2 separate regions of the Homo sapiens genome follow, and region 2 is linked to region 1. Evidence: fine-mapped expression QTL. A gene starts in region 1. The other region holds a variant in brackets. All regions are shown on one strand. Distances are from middle to middle.

Region 1 (5,365 bases):
AGATACTTTTTAAACAAGAATGATGAGAGCTAACTTTTTTTAAAATGAGACGGTCTTGCTCTTTCACCCAGAGAAGACTGGGTGATAACAGTGGCTCAATCTTGGCTCACTGCAGCCTCTGCCTCCAGGGTTCAAGCTATTCTCATGCCTTAGCCTCCTCAGTAGCTGGGATTACAGGGGTGCATCACTACACCACGCTAATTTTTGTATTTTTAGTAGAGATGCGGTTTTACCATGTTGGCCAGGCTGGTCTCGAACTCCTGACCTCAGGTGATCCGCCAGCCTTGGCCTCCCAAAGTGCTGGGATTACAGGCGTGAGTCACTACGCATGGCTGAGAGCTAACGTTTATTAAGCACCCGCCACTTTCTAGATGAGGTCCTTACTGACTTCCTTGGGTTATTTTAGGTAATCATCCCCATACCTCTTACGTGGCAGGTATGACTGTTACAGAGGGAGAAACCGAGGCTGAGAAAGGCTAAGTAGCGGCCACACCTCACTCAGCAGGTGACAGGCTGCGGTCGCACTCATGACATAGTCTGACTCTAGAGCAGGCCTTTCCTGCCCGCTGTTGCTGCCTCCAGAAGCCTCTCTGAATCCAAGGGTGGGAACTATTCCTCCTTGCCCTCGAGCCTTCGCCAAAGCCAGGGCTTGGAGCGGCCGTGGGCTCCTCCTCCTTCCCCCAGGCTGGGCTCTTCAGGGGCGGAAACCTGCCTGGCTTGCCTGCCTTGCTCGACCCTGTAGCCCCTGGCACGAAGTAGGTGCCCGTGATGCCGGATTATTTCAGCAGGAGGGCAGGGGTGTTCCCGATGAAGCCAGGAGATCCAGGGAGGAGAAGCGACTCCCGGGGCCACCCATGCTTAGATCTCAGAGCCAGGCAAGAGCCAGGTCCCGGGGGTCCAGGAGCGCGCTCGGGGCTCCTCCTCGCCCGCGCCCCCCGCGCCCCTCGCGCCCCCCGCGCCCCCCGCGCCCCCTGCGCTCGCGTCTGCGGGGCCGGGAGGAAGGGGCGGCGCAGCCGGGCCGGGGCGGGCACCGAGGCCTGGCGGGCGGGCCTGGGGCGCTTTCGTGCCTGCCAGGGAAAGGCTGGCGAGGAGGCTGGGGGCGGACGCAGGGAGGAAAGAAGCAATGGGGTGCTCTTGCGTTTTGACATTTTAAAAAGAAGTTTAGATTCGCTTCCCGGAGCCGGGATGGCAGCCTGCGCTATGGTTGGGGACCAACGTGGTGCACGGGCAGGGGCCGGGGAGAGAGGCGGCCGCAGCGGGAGCCCGGGAGCGCAGGGCGGGCCTGGAAGAGCTCCGCCCCAAGGGGCGCGGCCACCCCGGAGGCGGGCGCACGGCTGCTTCTCATTCATTGTCTTGACAAGAGCATCTTCAGCGGGCGAGTCCCCGGCTCCTCCAGCTCCTTCCTCCTCTTCCTCCTCCTCCTCCACCTCCGGCTTTTGGGGGATCACTGTCCTCTCTCGGCAGCAGGTGAGGCTGGGCCTGGGAGGCGCGGGTGGGCCGGGGCGAGGGCCACCTGTGGGGCGGCGCGCGCGTGGGAGCCGCGGGCTGCGGGGGCGCGCGGCTGTCACCGCGACCCAGCCAGCGCCGGGGCCAGGTAGCGGGCGCAGCAGCCCGTGGGGGGACGCTGCTTGGAGTGGGGGCCGCCGGGGCCCCAGAGCGCTCTGCGGAGGCGAGGGCTAGGGACCACCGCGGCCAAGATGGAGGTGGGTGGCCGGGGGTCAGCACAGTGTCGAGGGCCCGACTCCCCACGGAATTGAGTCTCGGGGAGGGTGGGGACGAGGGCAGGGTGGGGTGAGCGGGGCAGCTGCCCTGGGCTTGGAGACAGGAAGGGGTTGAGAGCAAAACAAGAAAAGACCAAGTTCCCCTTTCCGTGGTTTCCGGGCCTGGTACCTGTGGTGGGGGAGGAGGCAGGGTGGGGCGATGGCTTCCTGTCCCCCACCTCTGGTCCGGGGCTCCCCTCTCTCCAGATACAGGCTGCTCCTCAAGACTGGGGCTCTTCACATACGCTCCTCACCGCTCTTTGGGCAGGCCGACCTAGCAGCCTCTTCGGGAGTCCTGGGGTGGCCGGGGGTGCTGGAGCCCCCAGTGAGTAGGCGAGGCTGAGGCTAGGGGCAGAGGCTCTGGGCATGGCACCCTCCAAGCGGCAGCACAGGCCCCTTCCCTGAGCAGGAAGGTGATGCGGTGGCACAAGGTCGCCCCTGGAGTTCCTTGCTCCCCACCCAGACACTGGGGGAAACCATCCTACCTGGACCTCAGAGCAGTCGGAGTGGCCTCTCCCTTCCTGTGTGCAGTTTACATGGGGGTGGAGATGGCTCTTAAGGGCACCTGCTTTTCTGAGCGGAGGCGAGAGGCAGAGGTATGGGGAGGAGGAGATACCTGGACCTGAGCCAGAGACCTGCTGGGGAAGCTATCCTGCCGCCTCACTCCCCTCAGGCAGCCCCCACGCCACTTCCTCCTGTGTCCAGCCCCATGCCAGCAGGCGAGGGAGGCCAGCTCCTGTCCCTGCCTTTAGGAAGCGCTGTGTGGGTGTGAGGGAGGTGGGCTCTGGACACGGTAACTAAGAGAGAACCCACCCTCGGAGCCATCTGGGCTGATGACGCCTGAGTCTGAACCATTAGGAAGGACGGGCTCTGCATCCATCAGCCAGTCAGTCAACAAACATGCAGTGGGGCAACACCACGCCAGGCTCTGTTGCAGAGGCTGAGGGTACAGATTGAGAGGGTGGCTCAGAGTGGCCTGGGGCCAGGGAGAAGGGGGCTTGCAGGTTAGAGGGAAGGAGAGGCTGGGGAAGGCAAGCAGGCATCAGCCACAGAGGGAAGAATAGGGAGCCCCTGGAGATGATGCTGGGACCTTAAAAGCCAGACTGAGGGGTGTCCTGGGGGAGGTGGGGACCACTGGAAGATCAGAGTTGACCTGAAGGGAGAAATGCTCTTATGCTGTGTGCCCCCAGAATGAGCCGGCAGGTGGTCCGCTCCAGCAAGTTCCGCCACGTGTTTGGACAGCCGGCCAAGGCCGACCAGTGCTATGAAGATGTGCGCGTCTCACAGACCACCTGGGACAGTGGCTTCTGTGCTGTCAACCCTAAGTTTGTGGCCCTGATCTGTGAGGCCAGCGGGGGAGGGGCCTTCCTGGTGCTGCCCCTGGGCAAGGTGAGCCCCTGGGGCCCTGGGGGGAGCAGCTCCTCCACCGGACCCATGGCTCTGTGCAGGTCCTGATTAGGTGACGGTCACCAGGCCTTCCAGGGCCTGTGTTGCCATCTGGAAAACTGAGCTGGGCCCCATGAGCCTTACACTTCCTCCAGCTCCTCTGTGCTGTGGCTGTGTGGAAACTGACGCTCAGAAGGAGCCAACACAAGATGGGTCACACCAGTGACCAGGACTACAGACAGTCCTGCAGACCCATGATCAGCCCTCCTGAGCCTCAGCCTGGGGCTTTCTCCCCATGGAAACACAGAGGGGGTTGGGATGGGGTCTGGGGGCCCTGGCAGCGTTCTCAGGGTTGGGAGGGACTCTGGCTCTGGGCCTGTCTGAGGACCTAGCAACTCTGTCCCCCAGCTCGCAGGCAGGGATGATGCAAGAGGTGCTCTCCCCCACCCGCAGCCCTGCCCTCCCCTGGAGCCTGCTGCCCCCTCCGCTGGCTGGCTGCTGCCCCGCACCCCCAGCACACTCCTGTGCTCTTTGGGGGGTAAGACAGGAAGGGGAGATGGGCCCCAAGTTGTTACCTTAAAAGGGCTGATGGAAGCAAAGAGAAGAGGAAGTGGTTGTCGGGGTGAGAGCTGGGCCCGCGCCCCACATGGCTGTCACACAGGAAGCCCTGCTGAAGCAGCTGTCCCCGGAAGAAGCCATTTCCAAACCTCTGCTCCTGCCTGGGGCCAGTTGGGACAGGCTCCCTGGCCCCTCTCCTTTTGGGAGGACCCACCCCTGCAGCCCCACCACTCACACTCGCTCTCTGGGGAGCTGCCTCCACCCCCCCAGCCCCCATACACCTGTCCTGGCTCCAGGGCCAGTTGTGCCCATGGAAGCCTCACTCGGGGAAGCTGGGGTGGGGGTGCCAACCCTAAGGGCAGAGACAGACTGAGACAGAGACCGGCGGGAACTCTGCCAGGGTCTTGCACGGCCCCCAACCTCTGCCATGCGTGGCCAGCCCTCCTGGGGTTTGCCCAGGCCATTTTGGGACTGGAACAAGAGAAGAACAACCCGCCCCCGTCCCCACCCCAGGCCCTGGTCCAGCTCCCAGGGACACCACAGCTTTCCTCTCTGGGCCTCTCTGAAGGAGGTGTGGGGAGGTTGGATTGGGTTTGGGAGGCAAAAGCACCTCCAAGGCCCTGCTGTGCCTTTAGACTGGACGTGTGGACAAGAATGCGCCCACGGTCTGTGGCCACACAGCCCCTGTGCTAGACATCGCCTGGTGCCCGCACAATGACAACGTCATTGCCAGTGGCTCCGAGGACTGCACAGTCATGGTGAGTGGTGGTGGGGACCCAGGGGCTGGGAGAGGGGCTCTAGGATGGGATCTGACATTTGGAGTCCTGAAGACTCACTGGCCCCTCCTCTGCAGGTGTGGGAGATCCCAGATGGGGGCCTGATGCTGCCCCTGCGGGAGCCCGTCGTCACCCTGGAGGGCCACACCAAGCGTGTGGGCATTGTGGCCTGGCACACCACAGCCCAGAACGTGCTGCTCAGTGCAGGTGCTGCGGGAGGAGGGGCTTGGGGGTGGCTCGTGGCCTGCAGTGGATGAGGGCAGGAGGCTCATGGCTTCTGACACTGTGGGGAACGTGCAGGTTGTGACAACGTGATCATGGTGTGGGACGTGGGCACTGGGGCGGCCATGCTGACACTGGGCCCAGAGGTGCACCCAGACACGATCTACAGTGTGGACTGGAGCCGAGATGGAGGCCTCATTTGTACCTCCTGCCGTGACAAGCGCGTGCGCATCATCGAGCCCCGCAAAGGCACTGTCGTAGCTGTGAGTCGCCATCTACCCTGACCTTTGACCCTACAGCCTTTATCCTTCTTATCCACCATCAGCCAGGCCCTTGGATGCTGCCCTCCCTCGCCTCCACCTGGGACTGGCCCCGTAGGGTATGTACGGGTGCCTGACCTACCACCTCCCTTTCCTTGCAGGAGAAGGACCGTCCCCACGAGGGGACCCGGCCCGTGCGTGCAGTGTTCGTGTCGGAGGGGAAGATCCTGACCACGGGCTTCAGCCGCATGAGTGAGCGGCAGGTGGCGCTGTGGGACACAGTGAGTGCTGGGGCAGGAAGCCGAGGGCCCCCAGGCTGGGAACCAAGACTGGAGGTTTCGTCCCTGCTCTGCCACTCACCTGGCAGGATGGCCATGGGCCTCAGTTTACCCAGGCGTGAGAT
Region 2 (5,365 bases), 53 kb before region 1:
GATTACAGGTATGCACCACCACGCCCGGCTAATTTTTTGTATTTTGTTTTAGTAGAGACGGGGTTTCTTCACGTTGGTCAGGCTGTTCTTGAACTCCCGACCTCAGCTGATCCTCCCGCTTCAGCCTCCCAAAGTGCTGGGATTACAGGCGTGAGCCACTGCGCCCGGCTAGATCGTACAATATCTTGAAGGCCATTATGCTGGTGTCTTCCCTTTGAAGCCCTCTTATATTTTGTTGGTGCAAAAGTAATTATGGGGTGGGCATGGTGGCTCACACCCATAATCCCAGCACTTTGGGAGGCCAAAGAGGGGTGGATTACTTGAAGTCAGGAGTTCAAGACCAGTCTTACCAATGTGGTGAAACCCTGTCTCTACTAAAAATACAAAATTAGCTGGGAAGACTAGTTTCCTAGACGGGGTTTCACCATGTTGTCCAGGCCGATCTCGAACTCCTGACCTTGTGATCCGCCCACCTCAGCCTCCCAAAGTGCTGGGATTACAGCCAGCCACCGCGAGCCACCGCGCCTGGCCTTATTTTTTATTTTATCTTTTTTAGAGACAGGATCTTGTTCTGTCACCTAGGCTGGAGTGCAGTGGCCTGATCATAGCTCACTGCAGCCTCGAACTCTTGGGTTTAAGTGATCCTCCCACCTCAGCCTCCTGAGTAGCTAGGACTACAGGCACACATACACCACCCCTGGTGGTGTGTGCCTGTAGTCCCAAACCAGTCTGAAAAGATAGATGTGGGGGCCAGGCGCAGTGGTGATGCGCGTCTGTAGTCCCAGCTACAGGACTGAGGCAGGAGAATTCCTTGAGCCTAGGATTTTTGTTTTGTTTTGTTTTTTTGAGACAGAATCTCGCTCTGTCGCCCAGGCTGGAGTGCAGTGGTAAGATCTCTCAGCTCACTGCAAGCTCCACCTCCCAGGTTCACGCTATTCTCCTGCCTCAGTCTCCCGAGTAGCTGGGATTACAGACGCCTGCCACCACGCCCGGCTAATGTTTTGTATTTGTAGTAGAGACGGGGTTTCACCGTGTTAGCCAGGATGGTCTCGGTCTCCTGACCTCATGATCCGCCTGCTTTGGCCTCCCAAAGTGCTGGTATTACAGGCGTGAGCCACCGCGCCTGGCATGAGCCTAGGAGTTCAAGGCTGCAGTGAGCTGTGATTGTGCCACTGCACTTCAGCCTGAGCGATAGAGCAAGACCTACAAAAAACAAACAAAACCCAAAACAGAATCACATGTAACACACAGCTGTGGACTGATTGGTTGACAAAAGTGTGGTGATCAGAGGCTGGCAGGAACTTCACCATGTATTTCCGCTAGAAGCAATGTTCAGTATTCTCTAATTCATTGTTTGTGGTGACTTTGGGGAATATAACCACCACAGAGACAAGAATCAACTTTGAATGTGTCATCCCACCACCTGCTGGCTTCCGTTGTTTCTGATGAGAAATCAACTGTCAATCTCATTGGAGTTTCCTTGTACGCGATGAGTTGTTTTTCTCTTGCTGCTGCCAAGAGTCTCTTTTTGTCTTGTTTGTTTATTTATTTATTTATCTAATTTATTTATTTTGAGATGGAGTTTCACTTTTGTTGCCCAGGCTGAGTGCAATGGCACAATCTCAACTCACTGCAACCTCTGCCTCCCGGGTTCAAGCAATTCTCCTGCCTCAGCCTCCTGAGTAGCCAGGACTACAGGTGTGCGCCACCATGCCCAGCTAATATTTGTATTTTTTTTTTTAAATTTTTTGAGATGGAGTCTCACTCTGTCCCCCAGGCTAGAGTGCAGTGGCGTGATCGTGGCTCACTGCAAACTCTGCTTCCCTGGTTCAAGCGATTCTCCTGCCTCAGTAGCTAGGATTACAGGCACATGCCACCACACCTGGCTAATTTTTTATTTTTAGTAGAGGCAGGGTTTCACCATGTTGGCCAGGCTGGTCACGAACTCCTGACCTCAGGTGATCCATCCACCTTGGCCTCCCAAAGTGCTGGGATTACAGGTGTGAACCGCTGTGCCCAGCCTAATTTTTGTATTTTTGGTAGAGTGGAGTTTCACTATGTTGGCCAGGCTGGTCTCGAACTCCTGACCTCAGGTGATCCACCTGCCTCGGCCTCCCAAGGGTTGGGATTACAGGTGTGAGCCACCATGCCTGGCCCTTGGGGTCTCTTTTTTTATGAACTGTCTGTCCCACTGGGCAAAGCCTCTGAGACCCTATTTTGGACACTGGTGGAGCAGTAGCCTCTGGTTTTCGTGGCTTGCCCCTCCTGGCATGGGATCTCTGTTCCACAAGCAAGCTGGGAGGAGTGTGATTATGGTCCCAGTATTCTTGGACTGTCACTGATGGTACAGCCTTCATTCTATGGTGTGGGCGAGTGCTGGGTGGAGGAGAAGAGTGCCCTACTTCTTTACCACGTTCACCAGAAATGTAGCCTCTTCAATTTGGAGTTGGAGGGGATGAAAACTGGTGGCAGCATGCTCCTCCTGGTGAGATATGGTAAGCCTTGATTGGCAGCTGAGGGGAGAGGGAGCTTGTCTTCTTGGCCACATCTACTCA[G/C]AGAGCAGTTTCCTTCCAGCTGAACTGTGGGGGGAGGGCAGTCAGGAGATAGTTGGTCCTCCTGGCTTAAATGCCACAGATGGCCTGGCACAGTGGCTCATAATGTTACAGGTAGTTAAACAGGCATGAGCAGGGCTGGAGAGGGCTCTTCCCCACCCACCAGGAATGTCAAGTGATGGTTCAACAATGATCACATTGCCTCTCTAAATAATTTGGCAGCCAGCGCCAGAGAGAGAGACAAGCTCCTGATGGTCCACAGCTGTTATGTTAGAGTGTTAATTGAATGCAGACACCAGGGAGAAGCAATTTCCTGGACATGTGCATTAAGAGACAAAATAGTCTGGGCACGGTGGCTCACACCTGTAATCCCAGCAATTTGGGAGACTGAGGCGAGCGGATCACCTGAGGTCAGGAGTTCAAGACCAGTCTGGCCAATGTGGTGAAACCCCCATCTCTACTAAAAATACAAAATTAGCCAAGCGTGGTGTTGGGTGCCTGATATCCCACCTACTCAGGAGACTGAAGGAGGAGAATTGCTTGAACCCAGGAGGTGGAGGTTGCAGTGAGCTGAGATCAGGCCACTACACTCCAGCCTGGGAAACAAGAGTGAAACTGTCTCAAAAAAAAAACAAACAAACAAAAAAGAAAGAGACAAAATGATGGAGCATGACCTTCCGGGGTCAGACCACCGGAAAAGGGAAGAAAACCTCAGATAGGCATGCATACAACTTCCTACACACACTGTGCATGCTCACCTTCCCAGGGTAAGGAGGCCACTGTGCATGCAGGCAGCCCATCCTAAGGGAAGAATCATGGGAAAGGAGCCAGCCTATAAAGTCCTAGGATCAAGGTTGAACACCACGCTTGACCTTGGTGCCCACTTGAGTCTCTTCCAAATGTACTTACCTTTCTTTCCCATTCTAAAGCCATTTAAAATAAACTTCCACTCCTGCTCTGAAACTTCCCTTGGTCTCTTTTTCTGCCTTATGCCCTGTGGTTCTTTCTTCTGTGGAGGCAAGAATTGAGGTTGCTGCAGACCCGTACAGATTTGTCACCGGTAACTTGGATAACCTTTCACCGATAACAATGCTTATAATCCCAGCACTTTGGGAGGCCGAGGTGGCAGGATAGCTTGAGCCCAGGAATTTGAGACCAGCTTGTGCAACATAGTGAAACCCCATCTCTACAAAATAATAATAATAAAAGTAATAAAATTCAATGCCACAGATTCTCCCTGTTCTTACTGAGTTTTAGTAGATTTTCTTGAATAAGAAAGTGAGCCAAGATTGCACCACTGCACTCCAGCCTGGGCAACAGAGCAAGACTCCATCTCAATAAAAAATAAAATTAAATGTTTATTCATCTGTTATATGACATTAGGATAATTCCAGAAACTTTAAGTGTTTATTTATTTTTAAATGGTTTTCACCAGCTTTGCTTGTTTTGCTGGGGAAAAGATCCTCAGAGCTCCGGCACTGTCATCTTAGAGCTTTGATGTCCCCCAGTGTATTAATCCATTCTTGTATTGCTATAAATACCTAAGCCTGGATAATTTATAAAGGCAAGAGGTTTAATTGGCTCATGGTTCTGCAGGTTGTACAGGGAACATGATGCTGGCATCTGCTTGGCTTCTGGGGAGGCCTCAGGAAACTTACAATCATGGCAGAAGGTGAAGGGAGAACAGGCATGTCACATGGCAGGAGCAGGAGCAAGAGAGCAAGGGAAGAGGCGCCACACACTTTACTTATTTTATTTTTATTCATTTATTTTGAGATGGAATCTCACTTTGTCACCCAGGCTGGAGTGCAGTGGCACTACCTCAGCTCACTGCAGCCTCCATCTCTTGGATTCAAGTGATTCTTTTGCCTCAGCCTCCTGAGTAGTTGGGACTACAGGCATGCGCCACCACTGGCTTTTTTTTTTTTTTTTTTTTTTTTTAGACAGAGTTTTGCTCCCGTTGCTCAGGCTAGAGTGCAATGGCACCATCTTGGCTCACCGCAACCTCCATCTCCCAGGTTCAAGCGATTCTCCCACCTCAGCTGCCAAGTAGCTGGGATTACAGGCATGCGCCACCACATCCGGCTAATTTTGTATTTTTAGTAGAGACGGGGTTTCTCCATGTTGGTCAGGCTGGTATCGAACTCTTGATCTCAGGTGATCTGCCCGCCTCGGCCTCCCAAAGGGCTAGGATTACAGGCGCGAGCCACCGTGCCTGGCCAATTTTTTTTTTTTTTTTTTTAGATGGAGTTTCGCTCTCGTTGCCTAGGCTGGAGTGCAATGGTGCCATCTCGGCTCACTGCAACCTCCGCCTCCTGGGTTCAAGCAATTCTCCTGCCTCAGCCTCCCTAGTAGCTGGGATTACAGGCATGCGCCACCTCGCCTGGCTAATTTTGTATTTTTAGTAGAGATGGGGTTTCTCCATGTTGGTCAAGCTGGTCTCGAACTCCTGACCTCAGGTGATCCACCTGCCTCGGCCTCCTAAATAGCTGGGATTACAGGCGTGAGCCACCACATCTGGCCTAATTTTTGTATTTTTAGTAGAGACGGGCGTTTCACCATGTTGCCCAGGCTGGTCTCGAACTCCTGGCCTCAAGTGATCTACCCACCTCGGCCTCCCAAAGTGCTGGGATTACAGGTGTGAGCCACTGCGACCCGCCTTCACACACTTTTAAACAACCAGATCTCTTGAGTACTCACTCACTGTCAAGAGAACAGCACCAAAGGGATGGCGCTAAACCATTCATGAGAAACCCCACCCCCATGATCCAATCACCTCCCACCAGGCCCTACCTCCAACACTGGGGATTGCA

Evidence for each region. PIP is the estimated chance that this variant, and not a neighbour inherited with it, causes the effect.
Region 2: its variant is the best candidate, but not a certain one, in a credible set for the expression of CORO1A-AS1 in whole blood (TOPMed, PIP 0.85).

What each region holds. Positions count from the first base shown.
Region 1 is chr16:30,182,259-30,187,623 of GRCh38, forward strand. It overlaps CORO1A-AS1 (CORO1A antisense RNA 1), which reads right to left and starts at 2,530. Exons shown (of 2, transcript NR_186359.1): 1 at 2,246-2,530; 2 at 1,135-1,513. It overlaps CORO1A (coronin 1A), which reads left to right and starts at 1,344. Exons shown (of 11, transcript NM_007074.4): 1 at 1,344-1,467; 2 at 2,951-3,149; 3 at 4,340-4,462; 4 at 4,558-4,687; 5 at 4,781-4,965; 6 at 5,124-5,243. The coding sequence starts at 2,952. RefSeq lists enhancers at 97-206, 1,625-2,165, 2,166-2,707, 2,708-3,247, 3,248-3,789 and 5 more and silencers at 927-1,036, 1,177-1,636, 1,667-1,776, 3,147-3,246.
Region 2 is chr16:30,129,540-30,134,904 of GRCh38, forward strand. No RefSeq gene overlaps it. Among named protein-coding and RNA genes, the nearest start is that of MAPK3, 9.0 kb to the left of the region's middle. The variant G/C (reference allele first, on the strand shown) is at 2,556.